4 linked regions of the Homo sapiens genome follow. The protein of the gene in region 1 purifies or fractionates together with the protein of each later gene. This does not show direct contact. Each region holds a gene or a part of one and is shown on either strand. Other genes may lie near its edges.

Region 1 (5,035 bases):
GTTTTCAGTGAGAATTCTTGTAATAATTTTTGTGTCCATTTGAATATCTAAAACATCTAATAGAAATATTTAATTGTTGCTCTTCCCAACTCTATAATTCAAAGGTGGGGCTATCTAATTTAGTACAACTAAGAGCAAGAAAAGAAATCAGTTAAATATGAAACCTTAACTTGGACTTTAGTGAGTCTTTCACCATTCATGTGGTGGTACAATAATGTGAACAATCATTGCTTTTCCTGATACTGATTTAAAAATACTTCTTTGATCTTACAATAAAAACATTTTGAATTATTCTTTTGTGTTTATCTAAAATCAGTGGTATGCACTGAAGACCCATCACATGGTCCACAAATTCCAAATGTTTGAAAACACTACTTTCTCTACTACACTACTTCCCCTTCAAAGGAAGCTATCATTTCTTCCTGTGCATGTTAGAGAAAAACAGAGAACCAAGGACATTTTGTTTGCCCTTATTATTAATCTTCTCATATTAGAAAAGCACTTCATTATCTGCATTTATGTTGCCACATTTTCAAAAACATTGGTCTGATTTCAGTATGAATAGCACTTATAAAAAACAATATATATAATAATTATTTCCAATTTTTCCTGAATTCCCTCTGCCCCCAAAGACATTCTTTCCTTATGACCTTCCCAGAACCCAAGCTGCCTTCCTATACCTCTTGGTTACAGTCAAGGGTTATAAAAAAATGTTTAACAACTGGCATGGTATAAACACCAAACCAAGAGATTGACACCAATTTATAACTGTATGGCTGTAATGGAACAGGCTCACTAAATATCAGCCTTAGTTATACTGCTGCTAAAGAAGCAGCCTTAGAATGCTTCTTGTAAGCAGTCTGCTATACTTTTTTTCCATGCTAGGCCTGTTCTCAAAGATCTTTGGTTATTTCTTACCTGCCACTTCACAGAAAAGGGATAGCAGGGTTCATGAAAGAAACCACATAAATTGGATTCCAAAGATGAGTTTAACGTCACATCTTATTAAATATTTAATTTCTCTACTTTTATTCCTTAAAAGGAAGAATTAAGGAGAAGTATTAGAACATACTACTGCTTTCTTTCTCTTACACCGTCTCCAGATAATTAAGCTAAGTTAGTTTTTTTTTTAAAAGTCAGCTTTTTATTAGAGCTTTGTTATTCAATTATATCCACACAGGTATGCAAGTTCTTTCTCCTTTCTATCAAACAGACAGTTAATACACAGGCAAATGGATAAATTTGGGGATATATTAAGGATACTGTAAACTGTTAGCAAAAGAAATAAATGTCTGACATTCAGAGAGGAAACAAGAGAAAGGGAATATAGAAATTCACACCCTAAAAAAAAGAGGTGGTTCATTTTAAAATGAACTTATAAAGTTATATATAATAACATCAACTATATCTGTGTTGTTTTTAAAGATATTCTTACCCAATTTTGGAAAAACTATTAGGTATTCAGCATTGCACTGAGGACATGCCACTCTGGCTGTACTGTTTCCTCTTTGCTTTTCATCCACCCAGCGTTGTAGACAGGCCTGGTGAACCCATTTTGTAGATCCTCTGCACCTGCATGGTCTCACCCATTCAGCTGTTCTATCATCTTCATCAGTAGCAAAACAAACCCAGCAACTTCTGTAAATTAAAAGAGAAAAGGATGACATTTATATCTTTAGGACTCCAGCCTCCTCTATACTGCAGCTCTTACTTAATGGGATGAGCCTGCTATGTTATATTACAGAATCTCTGTCCTATATTAAAAGACTAAGGAGACAAAACAACCAATACATTCCCACTAGAGCAGTTTCTACTTTTTCTGTTTTTCCTTGTCTTCCTCTACAGAACTTATGTTTTCTGAACTTTGTTTTTATGTAATCTCCTCTATCTTTTCAGTAATTCTTCACCTTCTCTAATGAACCAGAGTGCAAGGAGACAAACCTCAAGTTGTTTTTGTTATAAGACCTAATAATTCTTTGAGGAATAGTAAGCACAGTAATATATTAAATTCAGTGTTCTCCCCAGTTCACCACCACCAATCCCTTGAACTTGGAAAAACAAAGTATTACACGAGTGATTTCACATACAGTCTCATTCCATTTTTCAGCTGAGGAAAAAAAAACCCATTTTTCTTTCCGGTAAAGTATAAACATGAGAGAAAACAATATTACATTTTCAAAAAAGCACAAAGGAGATAAATATATCAAGATTTTTTTTTTTAGAATAGCAATATGATAAATTTGGGCGTGTATGCTTGAAATCTGAAATCTAGAAGTATCAAGTCTGGGGTGCTTATATTAATAAAAATAAAATTCTATTGAGATCGGTAATTTTAAAACATTTTCCCACTTTGCTTTTAAGGGTACTTCATGAATTGTAATTTTTTCTTGTGGAATTAGGTTGTAATTCCTCAGTTTTTCTCCCAATTAACACAAGTTTTGACATCGATTTCCATCAGGGCAAATACAGTTCAATTCAATGAGACCCTTCGCTCCTCCCCTCCATTAGAACTTGTACAAGTGGAAACAACTGCTAATTAAAGCATGTTACCTACTGTGCACTTTTTAATTAATTGGATAAGTGGCTTCTGTCAGAACAACTAGCTTAACTATGCTCAGTGGGAAAGACTATATACTCAGGTATTATAGATGGGTGAGGTTCTCCAGTCCTTGTGGAACAACATGAATTTCAATTGTGTGCTCCAATTACAATTTTTCAATTAGAACAGAAAAAAAGTTGAACTGAATCCAGGGCATCAATATCCAAAATAGTTGTTTTATTCAGCTTTCAAATTCAGTCAGGTTTCATAAGATCTAAGTAAAATTAGAACGTAGGTAGCATTTGTTTAGCATTCTGACCCTTTTGACCCACTTTAGCTAAGCTGTCTGGGCCTTCACATTGTCTTATGGTTGTCCAAAAATACTTTGTTCTTTTTTAAAAAATTTTATCGTCAAATAGACATAGCATAAAATCTACCATTTTAGCCATTTTTTAGGTGTATAATTCAGTGGCAGTAAGTATATTCATACTGTTGTGCAACCACCAAGACTACCCATAGTAGGACTGGGTTCTAACCTATGATTTTTGCATAAAATTTCAATTGGTAAGTATACTAGCACACAGGCTGGTTAAGATGTTGTTAGTATATATTTTTCCCCACAACTGAGGTAATTTTGTGGACATATTTGTATACATCTAGGAAATGGAATGTATCATTTTAGCAACAAAATACTGGCAGAATATTTAGAGACTCTTTAGTCTCATACTTTCTTAACACAAACGTAAATAAGAATAGCTACATCAGCATAATTAATCAGTATTATGGTGAATCACATTTTAAATTAATCCAATTTCAGTCATCAGAAAAATAAAATACAATGTTAGGACTAGGTTGAACCAACTGAAATAGTCTACATTAATCTGTTTCTGACTTACAGAAAAGATAGGTCAAATTTCATATTTTGATCTAATGAGAATACTTGTGTAGCTATTATATTCCTTATAAATTCTAGATAAGGTTTATTTTTCCCAAACATTTTATTATGAAAAATTTCAAACTTTCCAAAAAAAGTTAAAAACTGTTCAGTGACTACCCATATACCCAACATTTAGATTCTATAATTCTTATTCTGCTATATTTGCTTTCTCACACATCCATTCATTATTCTTATTTTTTGCTGCATTTCAAAGTTGCAGGCATCAGTATATTTCAGTCCTAAATACTTGTACAGATTTACTTTTTAGAACTGACATTTAAAGCATGCACTTGGCCGGGTGCCGTGGCTTAAGCCTGTAATCCCAGCACTTTGGGAGGCTGAAGCGGGCGGATCACAAGGTCAGGAGATTGAGACCATCCTGGCTAACACGGTGAAACCCTGTCTCTACTAAAAATACAAAAAAATTAGTTGGGCATGGTGGCGGGTGTCTGCAGTCCCAGCTACTCAGGAGGCTGAGACAGGAGAATGGCGTGAACCCGGGAGGCGGAGCTTGCAGTGAGCCAAGATCGCGCCACTGCACTCCAGCCTGGGCAACAGAGCAAGACTCCGTCTCAAAAAAAAAAAAAAACAAAAAACAAACAACGCACGCACTTATGCACTTTCAGTTTTTTTTCTAATTAATTTCACAACTATGGTAAATAAGATAGCTGAATGATGATTCAGAGTGCGTACTTATCAGGAGTTAGGCTTTCAGTTGAAATAGCAGTATTAGAGGCATGTGAACCAGAGCAACTCCGTCTTGATTGAATAGGAGCTGGGTAAAATGAGGCTGAAACCTACTGGGCTGCATTCCCAGATGGTTAAGGCATTCTAAGTCACAAGATGATATATGAGGTCAGCACAAAATACAGGTCATAAAGATACTGCTGATAAAACAGGTTGCAGTAAAGCCAGCTAAAACCCACCATAACCAAGATGCTCACGAGTGACCCCTGGTCGTCCTCACTGCTACACTCCCACCAGCACCATGACAGTTTACAAATGCCACGGCAACGTCACGAAGTTACCCTATATGATCTAGAAAGGGGAAGCATAGGCTGGGCGCGGTGGCTCATGCCTATAATCCCAGCACTTTGGGAGGCTGAGGAGGGCGGATTATGAGGTCAGGAGATCGAGACCATCCTGGCTAATATGGTGAAACTCCGTCTCTACTAAAAATACAAAAAAATTAGCCAGGCGTGGTGGCAGGTGCCTGTAGTCCCAGCTACTCGGGAGGCTGAGGCAGGAGAATGGTGTGAACCCAGGAGGCAGAGCTTGCAGTAAGCTGAGATCGTGCCACTGCACTCCAGCCTGGGTGACAGAGTGAGACTCCATCTCAAAAAAAAAAAAAAGGGGGGAAGCATAAATAATCCTCTCCTTGTTTAGCATATCATCAAGAAATAACCATAAAAATGGGCAACCAGCAGCCCAAAGTCTTGCTCTGTTGCCCAGGCTGGAGTGCAGTGGTGGTCTCGGCTCACTGCAACCTCCGCCTCCCGGTTCAAGCGATTCTCATGCCTCCGCCTCCCAAGTAGTAGGATTACAGGGTGCCCGCCACC
Region 2 (5,035 bases), about 17 Mb from region 1:
CCAACTACCAGGGAAGTGGGGGGTGAGTGGAAGGATCTCAAGCCCAGGTGGCTGAGGGCACAGTGAGCTGTGATTGCACCAGTGAACTACAGCCTAGGCAACAAAGCTCAAAAAAAAAAAAAGAAAGAAAAATACCTCACTAATGACCATCTTGTACCCTACAAATAAGAGCCTCAGACAGCTGGATAGACATTCCTATTATTGGCCAGGCGCAGTGGCTCACGCCTGTAATCCCAGCACTTTGGGAGGCCGAGGCAGGCGGACCACAAGGTCAGGAAATCGAGACCATCCTGGCTAACACGGTGAAACCCCGTCTCTACTAAAAATACAAAAAATTAGCCGGGCGTGGTGGTGGGCACCTATAGTCCCAGCTACTCGGGAGGCTAAGGCAGGAGAAAGGCGTGAACCCGGGAGGCGGAGGTTGCAGTGAGTGGAGATCTTGCCACTGCACTCCAGCCTGGGCTACTGAGCGAGACTCCGCCTCAAAAAAAAAAAAAAGAAAGAAAGAAAGAAATTCCCATTATTGGCCGGGCTGGGTGGCTCATGCCTGTAATCCCAGCACTTTGGGAGGATCACAAGGTCAGGAGTTCAAGACCAGCCTGGCCAAGATGGTGAAACCCCGTCTCTACTAAAACTACAAAAATTAGCCAGGCACGGTGGCAGGCGCCTGTAATCCCAGCTACTCGGGGTGCTAAGGCAGGAGAATCACTTGAATCCGGGTGGCAGAGGTTGCAGTGAGCAGAGCAGAGATCGCACCACTGCACTCCAGCCAGGGTAACAAAGTGAGACTCTGTCTCCAAAAAAAAAAAAAAAAAAAAATTCCTATTATTTAACAGTAAGAGTTAAACCATGAAACTGTGATAAGGAGTAGAAAAAATAAACTCAGTTTCTCCCTCTATACTCTCATAAGGCCTAGGGAGAATTTCCCACACATCAAGCAAACGATTCTGCAGCAGACTCCAGCTAGATGTTCTCTAATTCAATTCTGATACTATCTACCTGGAGAGAGAGCATCGGATCACACAGGTTCAGGGCTCAGTTTCATAAAACTGCCCCGCCCTCATTTTCAATGCTAACTGAAAGCTCCAGGTTCTTTTGCCTCTGCTTCTTACAGACTGGTTATAAACTGGGGTTCCCACAACCCCCTGGGGTTCAAGTAATTTCCTAGGGTGGCACACAGAACTCAGGGACTAACACATTTACCAGTTATATAGGATATTTTAAAGGATATAAATGAACAGCCAGATGAAAAGATACTTATATATCTTTTCCTTTATAGGTGAGGTCTTGAAGGGTCCCAAGCACAGGAGCTTCCATCCCTGTGGAGCTGGGGTGCCCCACCCTCCCATGACATGAATGTATTATTGTTTACCTTCCTGAAGGCCCCCTGGACTCAGTCCTTTGGGTTTTTACAGAGACTTCATTACAAAGGAGACTTCATTACAAAGGCACGATTAATTAAATCACTGGCCACTGGCTCAACCTTTAGCTACTATGCCCTCCCCAAGGCAGAAGGTTTGTTCCCTAGCAACCAGCACCCCCTACCATGTGGCCATCTAGGGACTATCCAAAAATCACCTCATTAACATAAGTTCAGATGTGGTTGAAAGAGGCCTGTTAAAAATAACAACATAGCCCAGGGCGCAGTGGCTCGTTCCTGTTACCCCGGCACTTTGGGAGCCAAGGCAAGTGGATCACCTGAGGTCAGGGGTTGGAGACCCACCTGGCCAACACGGTGAAACCTCATTTCTACTAAAAATACAAAAATTAGTCGGGCTTGGTGGCAGGCACCTCCAAACCCAGCTACTAAGTAGGCTGAGGCACGAGAACTGCTTGAACCCGAGAGGCGGAGGTTGAGGTTGCAGTGAGCAGAGATGGTGCCACTGTACTCCATCCAGCCTGGATGACAGTGAGATTTCATTAAAAAAAAAAAAAAAAAAAAAAACCCACAAAAGACTGTCTTTCACTTTTATGCTCTGGAGCTGTTTCAGGAACCGAGGACAAATGGCCAAATATCTCAACAAAATACACTCTTACGGCTCTAGTCACTTGGGAAATTGCAAGGGTTATAGAAGCTGTGAGCCAGGAACTTGACAAAAACCAAAATATATACACCATAGTATCATAGGCCACCCCCTGGTTTCAAACAGGGATCCCTTACAGCAAAAAGGTCCATATATCTGTCAAGGATGTTTACACTTGTTGCATTTATATAACAGACATATCTACAAGAGTACAAACACAAATATGCCTATCATCTGGAGAAGCTACTGTGGGATAGGGATAGGTTTAAAGAAGCAACTAGGATGGGCGCAGTGGCTCACACCTGTAATCTCAGCACTTTGGGAGGCTGAGGCGGGCGGATTACCAGAGGTCAGGAGTTTGAGACCAGCCTGGCCAACACGGCGAAACCTCATCTCTACTAAAAATACAAAAATTAGCCGAGTGTGGTAGTGGGCACCTATAATCCCAGCTACTCAGGAGACTGAGGCACAAGAATGGCTTGAACCCAGGAGGTGGAGGTTGCAGTGAGCCGAGATCACGCCACTGCACTCCAGCCTGGATGACTCCGTCTCAAAACAAAACAAAACAAAACAAAAAAAACCTACTCGGTCCTATGAAGAGAAAAAAAAATAGCTCAGCAGTATGAGGAATGTGAGGTATGCAAAGTTTATCAGGCCCAGAGAGACATGAGAATGAGACTTTAGTCACAGGACACACCCCCATGCCTAGGGGAAATTGTTTAAAAACACTTTGTTCTTTTTTTCCTTCCTTGTAGTTTCCAGGCTCGCTGGCAAATATCTAAAGTGTTACTGCACAATGTGACCCTCACCCATTATCTTCATGTTCCTGGAATCTGTGATACAAAGAACAATGTATAGCCAATCACTAATCAATGTTATTTCTGTAAACCAAAGAGAATTCCTGCCAAACAACTTTGTATCAGCCCACATCCTGTCCCGAATTTTTGGCCTTTAAAAACCTGTTTGTAACAAGGGCCAAATGGAGCTCAAATCCACTTGGATCTGAGTCTGCTGGGCAGCTGTCCTCATTATGGTGCAAATAAATTCTTTAAAATTGTATTTTGTGCCTTAGTTTCTTCCTTTAGGTTGACAGAAGCCATTAGAAACATCTTTATCATCTTGTACCAGCTTTCTTTTCCCTTGATCTACTGTTATTTGTACCTTGTGCAGAACTATTCAGGATGGAAATCAGCTGATAGTGAGATCCAGTTCCTCCTCAGGCCAGTCACTTTCCATAGGTATTATATCCTGAGGAGGCTTCAACTCAATTTCACAATACATATAATCATCAATCAGTATTATAAGACTTATTTACACAAGGGAGTTTAATCTGCCAACAATATTACCATATGGCAGTATGAGCATGGTACAAAAAAAATCAGTTTCGTTACAGATCAGTAAGAATTAGAGATATTTGCTTTGCCTTTCCAACAGAAATCTACCCTTCCCCATTTGTCAGCCTTTATCTTGATTAATAAGCCTGACTACTGCCCCAGGCAATTTCAGATCACATTTCTCAATGTAATCTCTAACTTCTGACTTTTTAAATTTCTCCAAACTGGGCAAAATACAGCAAATACAGGTCTTAGGGGTACTTTTTACCCTTGCAAGGTGGCTTTGAGGCTGGTGGCCAAGGCTTAAACCAAATGAAACCTGAGCTTGGTCTAGCATCAAGGTACAATCCAGCACTCTTTCACTTTGATTTTAGCTATCACAAATAACAATAATCAAGGGATTGTATATTTTGTTTGTTTCTTATTGTTTGCGTTTCCTTATGCACCCAGTGAACCAACTCCCTTGGAGTTGGATCTATCTTTGAATTCCACTGGTAATTTTTAAGTACCTGAGCACAGCACAGTTGTGGCTCCATAGCAGGGGTGACCATCTGACCACCCAGGAGTCAAAAGTTCCTCATTTCCCATCCATTTATCCTTTTTCTTCCTAAACCATGCTTCGATGAGCCACTCTAGCTAGAGCCACTCTAGCAAATCCCAATCCTGACATCAATTCTGAGGATACAGAAAAAAACCAACTCAGTTTCTCCTACTATTCTCTCACAACACAGAATGCTTCTGTGACCACATGTGTGAGGGCTTTCCTCACACACCAAGCAAGCAATAATTTCTGCAGCAGACACTGGCTAAATGTCCTCTAATTCTACCTGGAGACATCAGATGCCACAGGTTAAGGGCTTAGTCCCACAAGACTGCCCTCCTCCCACTTCAGATGCCAACTGCAAGCCCCAGGTTGTTTTAACTCTGCTTCTGACCTGGCACCTCTAAACAGAGGTTCCCACAAGCCCCTTCTTGGGTTCAATTAATCTCCTAGAGCAGGTCACAGAACTCAAGAAACACTTTATTTACATTTACCAGTTTTAATAAAGGATATTACAAAGGATACAGATGAAGAGATGTACAGTGCAAAACATAGGAAGGGACACAGCTTCAATGCCCTCTCCAGACATGCCACCTTCCAGTAACCTCAGCTACCTAGCTCACTGACCTCTGTCCTTGTGGGTTTTCATGAGGCTTCATTATACAGGCATGACTGATTAAACCACTAGCCATTGGTGAACAATTAAACCTACAGCCCCTCTCCCCACCCCCTCTAATCACACCTTGGTCTCTCCACTGACTAGCCTCCAGCCCGAAGCTACCTAAAGGTGGCCAGCCACCAGTCAAAACTCATTAGCATACAAAAAGATACTTAATACTTTCGGGATTCCAAGGATTTTTTAGGAGTTCTATGCCAGGAGAGGGAAGGAGAACCAAATATATACTTCCTAATATCACAAGGAGCATTAAGCAATGCTTCTGGGTACTGCTGAATTGGAGTGGCAGCTAACATTACTGAAGTGGGAAAGGCTAGGTACATTTCCAAACTAATTCCCAGGAGTCATTAAATGACACAGGGGTCCCAAGCTGCCTTCCCATTTTAACTATGAACTCCTAGTAGCTGAGAGAAGCTTCTTCCACTTACATTAAATCTGTTAAAATGCCACAGACATCCAA
Region 3 (5,035 bases), on another chromosome or scaffold:
GTTTCTATTTTTTGGCTATTATGAATAAATAATGCTCTGCGAACATTCGTTTACAAGTTTTTGTGTGAATGTGTATTTTTTTTTTTTTTTTGAGATGGAGTCTCGCTCTGTCACACAGGCTGGAATGCAGTGGCGTGATCTTGGCTCACCGCAAGCTCCGCCTCCCGGGTTTACGCCGTTCTCCTGCCTCAGCCTCCCGAGTAGCTGGGACTGCAGGTGCCCGCTACCACGCCCAGCTAATTTTTTGTTTTTAGTAGAGACAGGGTTTCACCGTGTTAGCCAGGATGGTCTCGATCTCCTCACCTCGTGATCCACCCGCCTCGGCCTCCCAAAGTGCTGGGATTACAGGCGTGAGCCACCGCGCCCGGTCAGTGAATGTGTATTTTTGATTCTCTTGGGTATATATCTAAGCGTAGACTTGCTGATTCATATGATAATTCTTACGTTTAACTTTCTGAAAAACTACCAAAGTGTTTTCCATAGTGGCTGCACCTTTTTTTTTTTTTTTTTTTGAGACAGGGTCTCACTTTCTCGCCCAGACTGGAGTGCTGTGGCGCTATCTTGGCTTACCGCAACCTCTGCCTCCCAGGCTCAAGGCGTTCTCCTGCTTCAGCATCCTGAGTAGCTGGGATTACAGGTGCCCGCCACTACTGCCCGGCTACTTTTTGTATTTTTAGTAGAGGCGAGGGTTTCCTTATATTGGTCAGGCTGGTCTCGAACTCCTGACCTCAAATGATCCACCCACCTCGGCCTCCCAAAGTGCTGGGATTACAGGCGTGAGCTGCTGCGCCCAGCCGTGGCTGCACCATTTCACATCCCCTCCAGGGTTCAGGTTTCTGCACATCCTTATCAACACTTGTTGTTATCTTTTTTTTTTAAGCGCTAAATCATTCTGGAATTCTTTATTTGAAAAACAGCACTTTTTGACACCTATGCCATTTCCTTCTCTTATGGACAACTTTTTTCATAGTTTGATGTCCCTCTCTCTTTTTTTTCTCCATGAGCACTGCTGTCTACATTTTAGCATTTATTGACTATAATTTAATTCCTGCTTATGCATTGTTTTCTTGTGTTCTTAGATAAATTTATGTTTTTCTCTTTTTTTGTATAGATTATGAGCTGCTGCTTTTTTTTAACTTAACAAAATTGAGGTGAAATTTGCAGAACATAAAATTAGCCTTTTTTTTTTTTTTTTTTTTTTGAGATGGAGTTTTGCTCTTGTTGCCCAGGCTGGAGTGCAATGGCGCGATCTCGGCTCACAGCAACCTCCACCTCCCGGGTTCAAGTGATTCTCCTGCCTCAGCCTCTCAAGTAGCTGGGATTACAAGCATGTGCCATGCCTGGCTAATTTTGTATTTTTAGTAGAGACAGGGTTTCTCCATGTTGGTCAGGCTAGTCTCAAACTCATGACCTCAGGTGATCCGTCCACCTCGACCTCCCAAAGTGCTGGGATTACAGGTGTGAGCCACTGTGCCCAGCCAAAATTAGCCCTTTTATAAAATGTATAATTCAGTGTCATTTAGTGCATTCATAATGACATCTCTGTCTAGGTCCAAAACAATTTCATCACGAAAGAAAACTACTATTGAGCTGTCACTCCCTCTTCTTTCTTTTCCATTTAATGGCTGAGTAATATTCTGTTATATGTATAAACCACATTGGTTTATTCAATCACCTATTGATGAGCAATTGGGTTGTTTCTGCCTTTTAGCTGTTGTGAATAGTGCTGCTGTGAATATTGGTGTACAAGTATTTGAGTACCTGTTATCAGTTATTTTGGTATATACCTAGGAGTAAAATTACTGGGTTCTATGGTAATTTTGTTTAACTTTTTGAGCAACCACTTTTCCACAGCAGCTACACCATTTTAAAATTCCCACCAGCAATGTTTGAAGGGTGCAGTTTTTCTGTATCTTTGTCAACATTTGTTATTATCTGTTTTTGATTATAGTCATCCTAATGGGTGTGAAGTTTTGTTTTGCATTTCCCTAATGACTAATGGTGTTGAACATCTTTTCATGTGTTTGTTGGGGTTGTCTTATTGTTGAGGTTGTAAGAGTTCTTTTTTTTCTTTTTTTTTTTTTTTTTTTGAGATGGAGTCTCGCTCTGTTGCCCAGGTGGCCAGGCTGGTCTTGAACTCCTGACCTCAGGTGATCCGCCTGCCTTGGCCTCCCAAAGTGCTGGCATTATAGGCATGAGCCACCACACCCGGCCTTGTCTTTTTGCTTCCTTGTTAGTGTCCTTCAATACACAAAAGGTTTTACTTTTGGTTAAGGCTAATTTATCTTTTTTTTTCCTTTTATTGCTTTATGGTGTCATATCTAAGGCATTGACAAATCCAAAGCCGTGAAGATTTTTTTTTATTTTTTAATGTTTTTTCCCCTAATTATTTTATAGTTTTGGCTTGTATATTTAGGCTTTTGATCCATTTTGAGTACATCTTGGTATGGTATGAGGTAGGGGTTCATTTCATTTTTTTTGCACGTGCTTCTCCAGTTGACCTAGTACCATTTGTTGGAGAGACTGTTCTTTCCCCATTGAATAGTCTTGGCATTGTTGAAAATCAGTTGAGCAAAGATTTTGTTGTTGTTGTTGAGACAGGGTCTCACTCTGTCACCCAGGCTGGAGTGCAATGATGCAGTCTTGGGTCACTACAGCCTCCACCTCCTGAGTTCAAGCGATTCTTCTGCCTCATCCTCCCAAGTAGCTGAGACTACAGTCACCTGCCATCACGCCGGGCTATTTTTTTTGGTATTTTTTTTTAGTAGATACGGGGTTTTGCCATGTTGGCCAGGCTGGTCTTGAACTCCTGACCTCAGGTGATCCATCCACCTCGGCCTCCCAAAGTGCTGGGAATACAGGCATGAGCCACCATGCCTGGCCAGCCAAAGATTTATTATATGGGTTTATTTCTGGATTCTCAGTTCTATTCTGCTTTGATTACTGTAGCTTTGGAGTATATTTAAAATTTGAGAAGTGTAACTTTACCAGCATTGTTTTTCTTTTTCAAAATTGTTTTGGTTGTTTGGGGTCCCTTGTCATTCAATATGAATTTTATTTTATATTATTTTATTTTGAGAGGTAGTCTTACTCTGTCGCCCAGGCTGGAGTGCAGTGGCGTGATCTCGTTTCACTTGCAGCCTCTGCCTCCTGGGTTCAAGCGATCCAACCACCTCAGGCTGCAAGTAGCTGAGATTACAGGTGCCCACCACCATGCCTGGCTAATATTTGTTTTTTTAGTAGAGATGGGGTTTCACCACGTTGGCAAGATTGATCTCAAACTCCTAACCTCAGGTGATCTGCCCACCTTGGCCTCCCAAAATGCTGGGATTACAGGCGTGAGCCACTGTGTGGGCCCCGTATGAATTTTAGATTTGGCTTCTCCATTTCTGTAAACAAGACAGTTGGGATTTTGATGGGGATTGTGTTGCCTCTATAGGTTGCTTCAGGTTTTATTGGCATCTTAACCATTTTAAGTTAGAATTTTTGATGGGGAGGTTTTTTCTTTTAGCACTTTATCTTACTGCCTCTGGCTCCTATGGTTTCTTTTCTCTTTTCTTTCTTTGAAAACAAGTTTATTAAAGTAAAGGAATAAAAGAATGGCTACTCCATAGGCAGAGCTGCTGTGGCCCCTATGGTTTCTGATGAGAAGTCTGTTGTATCTGTTGTTAGTCTTACTGAGGATCCCTTGTTCATGACTCTTAGCTTCTCTCTTGCTGCTTTTAGCATTTGTCTTTGTCTTTCAACAGTTTGATTATAATTTATCTCAATGTGTGTATTTCTTTGTGTTTATCCTGCTTTGAGTTCATCGAGCTTCTTGGATGTGTAGATTCATATCACTTTTTCATGCTTTTATGGAAGAAGTGGGGATTTTCACAGACGATAATTCTGCCTTATCAGATATCTGAATCTCTCTCTTAGTGATCTAGAAAGCACTGGACCTATAGTTTTATAACCAAGAAAAAATTCCTTCCTAAGGACTGTTAGGTCTGCAGTATTTTAGAAAGTTTGGATTTTGGGTATTAAGTTCATATAAGAACACTCTTTTAAGCCAAGTGTGGTGGCCTGTGCCTGTAGTCCCTTTTACTTGGGAGACCTGGTGGCAAGGCTGCTTGAGCCCAGGAGGTTGAGGGCTGTAGTTCACTGTGATTGTGCTGTGAATAGCTGCTGCACTCCAGCCTAAGCAACATAGTGAGACCTGGTCTCTTAAGAACAAAAAACACCCCACATATTAACTACAAATTATGAAGTGGTTTAAACTTCATATTTATATTTTGTCATTAGGTAGAGGGTTTGAGCTATATGGTAGAAACATTGTAGTTTAGCTATTTTATTTTATTTTATTTTTGAGGCAGAGTTTCGCTCTCGTTGCCCAGGCTGGATTGCAATGGCGTGATCCTGGCTGACTGCAACTTCTGCCTCCTGAGTTCAAGTGATTCTACTGTCTCAGCTTCCCGAGTAGCTGGGATTACAGGCATGCGCCACCACGCCTGGCTAATTTTGTATTTTTAGTAGAGACAAGGTTTCTCCATGTTAGTCAGTCTGGTCTCAACCTCAGGTGATCTGCCCGCCTCACCCTCCCAAAGTGCTGGGATTACAGGCATGAGCCACTGGGCCCGGCGTAGTTTAGCTGTTTTAAATACCATAAGATTAACATTTCTAAGGACACTCTTAGAAATATTTTATTTAAATAAGTGAAGCAAATATATAAGGAAACCTTCTGTAAATCTAAAATTATTTCAAAATAAAAAGTAAAATATTGAGACATATATGTTTACTATATTAATATCAAAATAAAGAATTGAGAGGTCTGCCTTACACAATGAAAAATTAAAACTTAGAAGTTGAATAAGGGATCAGCTTTGGTTAATGTGGTATGAATGAACATTATTAACTCCTCAACCCCAACTGATGCTGATTATTAGGGAAGAGCTGAAAATACAACAAAACCTTTTCCATGAAAGGCCACATTTCAAAATATAAATTCAAAACACTAAAAATCCCAATACAGTGCAGTTTGGAAGAAACTAAAACT
Region 4 (5,035 bases), on another chromosome or scaffold:
TCACTAGAAAAGTCTATAAGTATTGTCAGCTCTTGACGATGCATATAGATTTTCCAAAATTCTGAGTTTTAGTTGAAAATTCAAACTTATCATTGACAGTAAATACTGTTATTTATTTTTGTTTTAATCAACAATCTCACTTTGTTTATTTTTTAAAATATGTCTGTCCTGAAAGTGAATAGGTATAGTCCGTCAATGAGTTTTTCTAAGTAAAAATGATGTTCCGTGAAAAAAGTGGCTAGTTTAGCTTGCAGTTCTATCATACAAGTGCTTTCCTCATGACAGCAATCTTACTTCCTTATGTAACACACAGGATATTAATTAGAAAGAGGATGTGTACTCAAAGGTCAAGGATTCATAAAATTAACATTTTGTTACTTCATTGTCAAGGATATTACTATATGAAGGTTGCTTTTTTCTCTCTATGGGTAAATGAGGTGAAAAATTACTGTAAGTACGAAAATACAGTTTGATGGTGCTGCCTCAATTTGTGCTAATGAGCTGGGAGTTTTACCTACCATTGCTTTTGTACCATTAGTGAAAATGTCAAGACAGTGAAAAAAGGAAATTATATCTTAGTAATCACTAGGAAAATAATTTTGAACTTGTCAAGCCCCTGAAAGGGTAATGGGGCCCTCAGGAGTCAGTGGACCCCACTTGCAAACTCTGTTATAACCCACTTTTTTTTTTTGTTTGTTTGAGACGGAGTCTCGCTCTGTTGCCCAAACTGGAGTGCAGTGGCATGATCTCGGCTCACTGCAAACTCCGCCTCCTGGGTTCACGCCATTCTCCTGCCTCAGCCTCCCGAGTAGCTGGGACTACAGGAGCCCGCCACCGTGCCCAGCTAATTTTTTGTATTTTTAGTAGAGACGGGGTTTCATCGTGTTAGCCAGGATGGTCTCGATCTCCTGACCTCATGATCCGCCCGCCTCAGCCTCCCAAAGTGGTGGGATTACAGGTGTGAGCCACTGCGCCCGTCCTGTTATAACCCACTTTCTCTGTAAAGTAATGCTTCCTGTATTTGTTAGCTGTTAGAGTTCAAAACAGTATAAATCATTATAAATTAATCTGTTCATGCTTAGCACTGAAAAGTATGTATACAGAAATACCATTAAAGTAGCATTGACTGTATGTGCCACAGAACAGTGTATTTCAGATATATATTTTACATTGTAGTAATATTAACATGGAGATCCAATGGATACATTACATATAAGTAACAAATATATTATTTTTAAATGTTTTATGAAATAATACCATTAGAATGTAATACATTCTAATATTTTATTGTTTCACATAATAAATATTGTTTTGACACTCCCCCAGTTGATTTCATATACCAGTCAGTTGCCAAGTACAGTTTGAAAAATGCTTGCCTAAAATGAACATGAGTTGGGAGATGTAATTCAGTTGTTTAAGGCAAACCAAATATCAAATAAGACCCTCTTTATTATATAGTCTACAGTACTGTGTGTATTATGCATTGGTCTTCAGATTGTATTTATATAACCATACATACTGTACTTTTAATAGGTTATTTAAAGCACTTTTAAGAGTAATTTTGCTTATGTGTAATTTATGTTGACTTTGGAATTAACTTTTGTTTATACTGCAATTCCACCATATTTCTTTCATGGCTCTGTTATTTCTTGACAAAACATTAACAGAAAAAAATAATGAAATATCTTTTTTACAGGTTAATTACCATGCTCAGCATTACCATCTCACTCCATTTACAGTCATCAATATTATGTACAGTTTCAACAAAACTCAGGTGAGAATTTTGTCTGGATTCTATTAAAGGTTTATATAAGTGTCATTTGGGTTTAGTAATCATTAAAGCAAGAATAATTACTTTCAGTTTGGTCAATAAAACATCTTAACTGTTGTAGTAAAACTAAAGTAGCACAACGATATGTTTTTGAATCTTTCAAAATGTAATTTAGCAAAAGTACAATTTAATTTAGCAAAACCACAAAGAGCTGTGCTAAGATGATGTCTCTGCTATCAAGAGGCTCATATTTATTCATGGAGACAAAATCTTTGAAGATTGTGCTGCAGTAAGATAAAGGCAATATTAGAAGTACAGAATGCTGTCAGAATACAAAAGAGAAGTACCTTATCAAAACTGGGCTTGGGCACAGTGTATGGCTGGGAAAAACTTTGGGAAAAGAAAGGCCCGAATTGTGTGCTTCTTGTTGAGAAGTCTGACTCTTCATGATGAGGATAGAGAAAAGGTTTTTAAAGTAGACGTGTGAAGGCAGAAGACAAAGAGAGATCATAATGTTTGGGAATGGATTTAATGGAGTACAATGGGAGCTTGAAGTGGGGGTTGAAGAGTAAGAGAAAGATGAAAAAGTAGCCAGAGAAGTAAGCAGGATCCAGATTCTAAAGCACCTTCTAAGAACTGCACACTACTAGATCTTAAAAGCTACAAGAGTACTGTTGAAGGTGTTTTAGCCATGACCAAAATATCTTGAAGACCTTTGGATTGTTTGGCAATATCTATTAAAATTTAAAATGTACATGTTCTTTCACTTCCAGGAACTTATCCCACATAGATGTGCACATATATATGCAAAAATATATATACAAGGATGTCCTATGACATTGCATATAATAGACTGGAAATGATTAAATGTCCATCACTAGGGTACCAGTGAAATAATTATGGTATATTATGGTGAAACACCTTGTAACCTTTAAAAATAAGAGGGTAGCTCTGTGTATACTAATGTGGAATGATCTCCAGGATATTTTTTATGTTTCAAGATAATACTACCTGTTAAAAATAAGCAAAACAAAAATATTTCTATAACATACACACACAGATATACTTGTATATGCATGGATTATCCCGATAAATTTTAAAACTGCTGCTGAGGACTGGGATGAAAAGGAGACAGACTTTTCAGCTGATACCCTATTGCTTCTTTTTAATTCTATCATGTATATCTATTAATAATATAGATAATATAGATAAATAATAGGAGTATTACTGATGGTATCATGCAAAGGGGCAAAACCAGAGACAGTGAAACTTGTAGTCAAATTGATATAAAGTAATAGTGTTAAGTATGGAGAAGAGCATGGATTTGTAAGATACTAAGGGAGTAGAATTTGTAGAACCTGGGGACTGATTAGATAGGAAGAGTGAGATAAAAATGTTTTCTAGATATATTGTTTGGACACTAGGATGATGAAGCTGCTATCTAGGGAAATAGGAAATACAGCAGAGAAGGAAAGAATTGGTGTGGTATGAGTGAGTATGATTGGGTTAAGTTGTGGATATGTAAGTTTCAAGTTACCTTGTGTCATCCACAGGACAGGACTAGTAGGGAGTTGAATATATAGATATTAGGGATATTTAATAAATTAGTTAATCATTAGGGGTTTTAATTAATAGGAATGTTCTTCTTGGCCTAAGTATAACTTTAAAATGATATAAAATTAATTGTAGTTCTCTACTAATATTTCTATTAGAATAATGTTTTATTGGAAAATGTCTACACAATATCAAGTTTTATTAAGATCTTTTGTGTTTCAGATGTAGGTATTAACAGAAATAACATGAATTTTGTTCAATTTAGGGACCTAGAGCCCTGTGGAAAGGAATGGGAAGTACATTTATTGTCCAGGGAGTCACACTTGGAGCAGAAGGCATAATTAGTGAATTTACACCTTTGCCAAGGTACCATTTTTAGCATTTCTTCAGTATTAGTTTCATGTGGTGATGTGTTTTTAGATGCAGGCGGTACATGTGCAGGCTTGTTACATGGGTATATTGTGTGATGCTAAAGTTTGGACTTCTAATGATCCTCTCATCCAACAATTCTCAATTGTGTAAACATCATACCCAATAGGTAGCTTTCAACCCTTGTCCCCATCCCTCCCCTATTATATTGTTTTAATAATAAATAAAAAATACCTTGAATCTGAAAACTTGTCTGAAGTAACTAAAAGAAAAAACAAAGAATAAAATTAATTATATATTATTAAATTAGTATGTGATAAAGAAAATGTGTCTTGGCTTAGTATCTATTGAGATGTATCTTTCAGCTTCTACTGCTATGTGCCAGCAACTGCCAGCTGAGGAACAAATGTGGGTATGTGAGCAATTCCCGCTCTTTAAGTATTCATTTAATGAAGGAGACACATGTAAGCAAGAAGAGGTAACATGTCCAATGTCACGGGGTTGGACAGTCTAGGTAATAAAAGAAGTGTCTTATGTTTGGAATATTGGGTATGTATGAAATTGAATATCAGGAAAAGAAGCTGAGGTGCTACATTAAAATACGATTGTGCCTTTTTAAGTTTATTCTCTATGGGTTTGGAATGTGTTTCTTTTTTTAATATATAGATGTTCTGATCAAGATATATTCAAATGGCAGTATAAAATAAATGGAGTTGTATAGACAGATTTATGGAGATCTATTGTAATAATCTAGGCGAGGCTGAGAAGGTTCTGAACTGTGGAACAGAACAGAAAGGGATGAGCTGGCTAGACATTTCTGAAGTATAGTCGATGGTCATTATGTTAGCTTGGTAATTGGAGATAGGAGAGAATGAGTTGTCAGTAGTGACTGAGATTTCTAGATTGGAAAATGTTAACCAAGATGGAGAATTCAAGAAGAAGAAAAAGTTGGAGTAGGGAAGAAGATAAAGAATTTATCTTTCAATAAATGAAGTTTGAGATTCTTGCAAGACATTGAGGGAGAGGGACATGTCTCATATTTGGTTGGAACCATGGATCAGAGTAAAAAAAAAAAAATAGAAAATTGAAGCACAGGGAGAGCTTTGGGTATTGTGGCATAAAAGTAGCAGCTGAAGCTTAGGATAGATGAAATCACCTAAGGAGAAAGCATAGATTAAATGAATAAAATGGACCAAGGACAGAATCCTAGGCATACATGTGTGCCGTGTGTGTGTGGGAGCGGTGGGAAGGGGGGTAGTTGGGGGAGATAATGAGAGAAATTAGAGAGGGCCTCAGACAAATTGGAAATAGCATAAGATGTAGGACAATCATGTTCTAGAA

What was found. The genes of interacting proteins can lie anywhere in the genome.
Region 2: the proteins of MARCHF5 (region 1) and VDAC2 purify together in Homo sapiens (affinity purification with mass spectrometry, with the first as the bait; one study listed by BioGRID). This does not show direct contact.
Region 3: the proteins of MARCHF5 (region 1) and DNM1L purify together in Homo sapiens (affinity purification with western blotting, with the first as the bait; 3 studies listed by BioGRID). This does not show direct contact.
Region 4: the proteins of MARCHF5 (region 1) and SLC25A46 purify together in Homo sapiens (affinity purification with mass spectrometry; 2 studies listed by BioGRID). This does not show direct contact.

Annotation. Positions count from the first base shown.
Region 1 is NC_000010.11:92,307,738-92,312,772, reverse strand, and holds part of MARCHF5 (E3 ubiquitin-protein ligase MARCHF5), read right to left. Parts: intron 1,639-5,035; coding exon 1,436-1,638; intron 1-1,435. UniProt on the Homo sapiens protein: Mitochondrial E3 ubiquitin-protein ligase that plays a crucial role in the control of mitochondrial morphology by acting as a positive regulator of mitochondrial fission and as an important regulator of immune response.
Region 2 is NC_000010.11:75,223,362-75,228,396, reverse strand, and holds part of VDAC2 (non-selective voltage-gated ion channel VDAC2), read right to left. Parts: intron 1-5,035. UniProt on the Homo sapiens protein: Non-selective voltage-gated ion channel that mediates the transport of anions and cations through the mitochondrion outer membrane and plasma membrane.
Region 3 is NC_000012.12:32,684,867-32,689,901, forward strand, and holds part of DNM1L (dynamin-1-like protein), read left to right. Parts: intron 1-5,035. UniProt on the Homo sapiens protein: Functions in mitochondrial and peroxisomal division.
Region 4 is NC_000005.10:110,744,573-110,749,607, forward strand, and holds part of SLC25A46 (mitochondrial outer membrane protein SLC25A46), read left to right. Parts: intron 1-1,696; coding exon 1,697-1,774; intron 1,775-3,590; coding exon 3,591-3,691; intron 3,692-5,035. UniProt on the Homo sapiens protein: Transmembrane protein of the mitochondrial outer membrane that controls mitochondrial organization.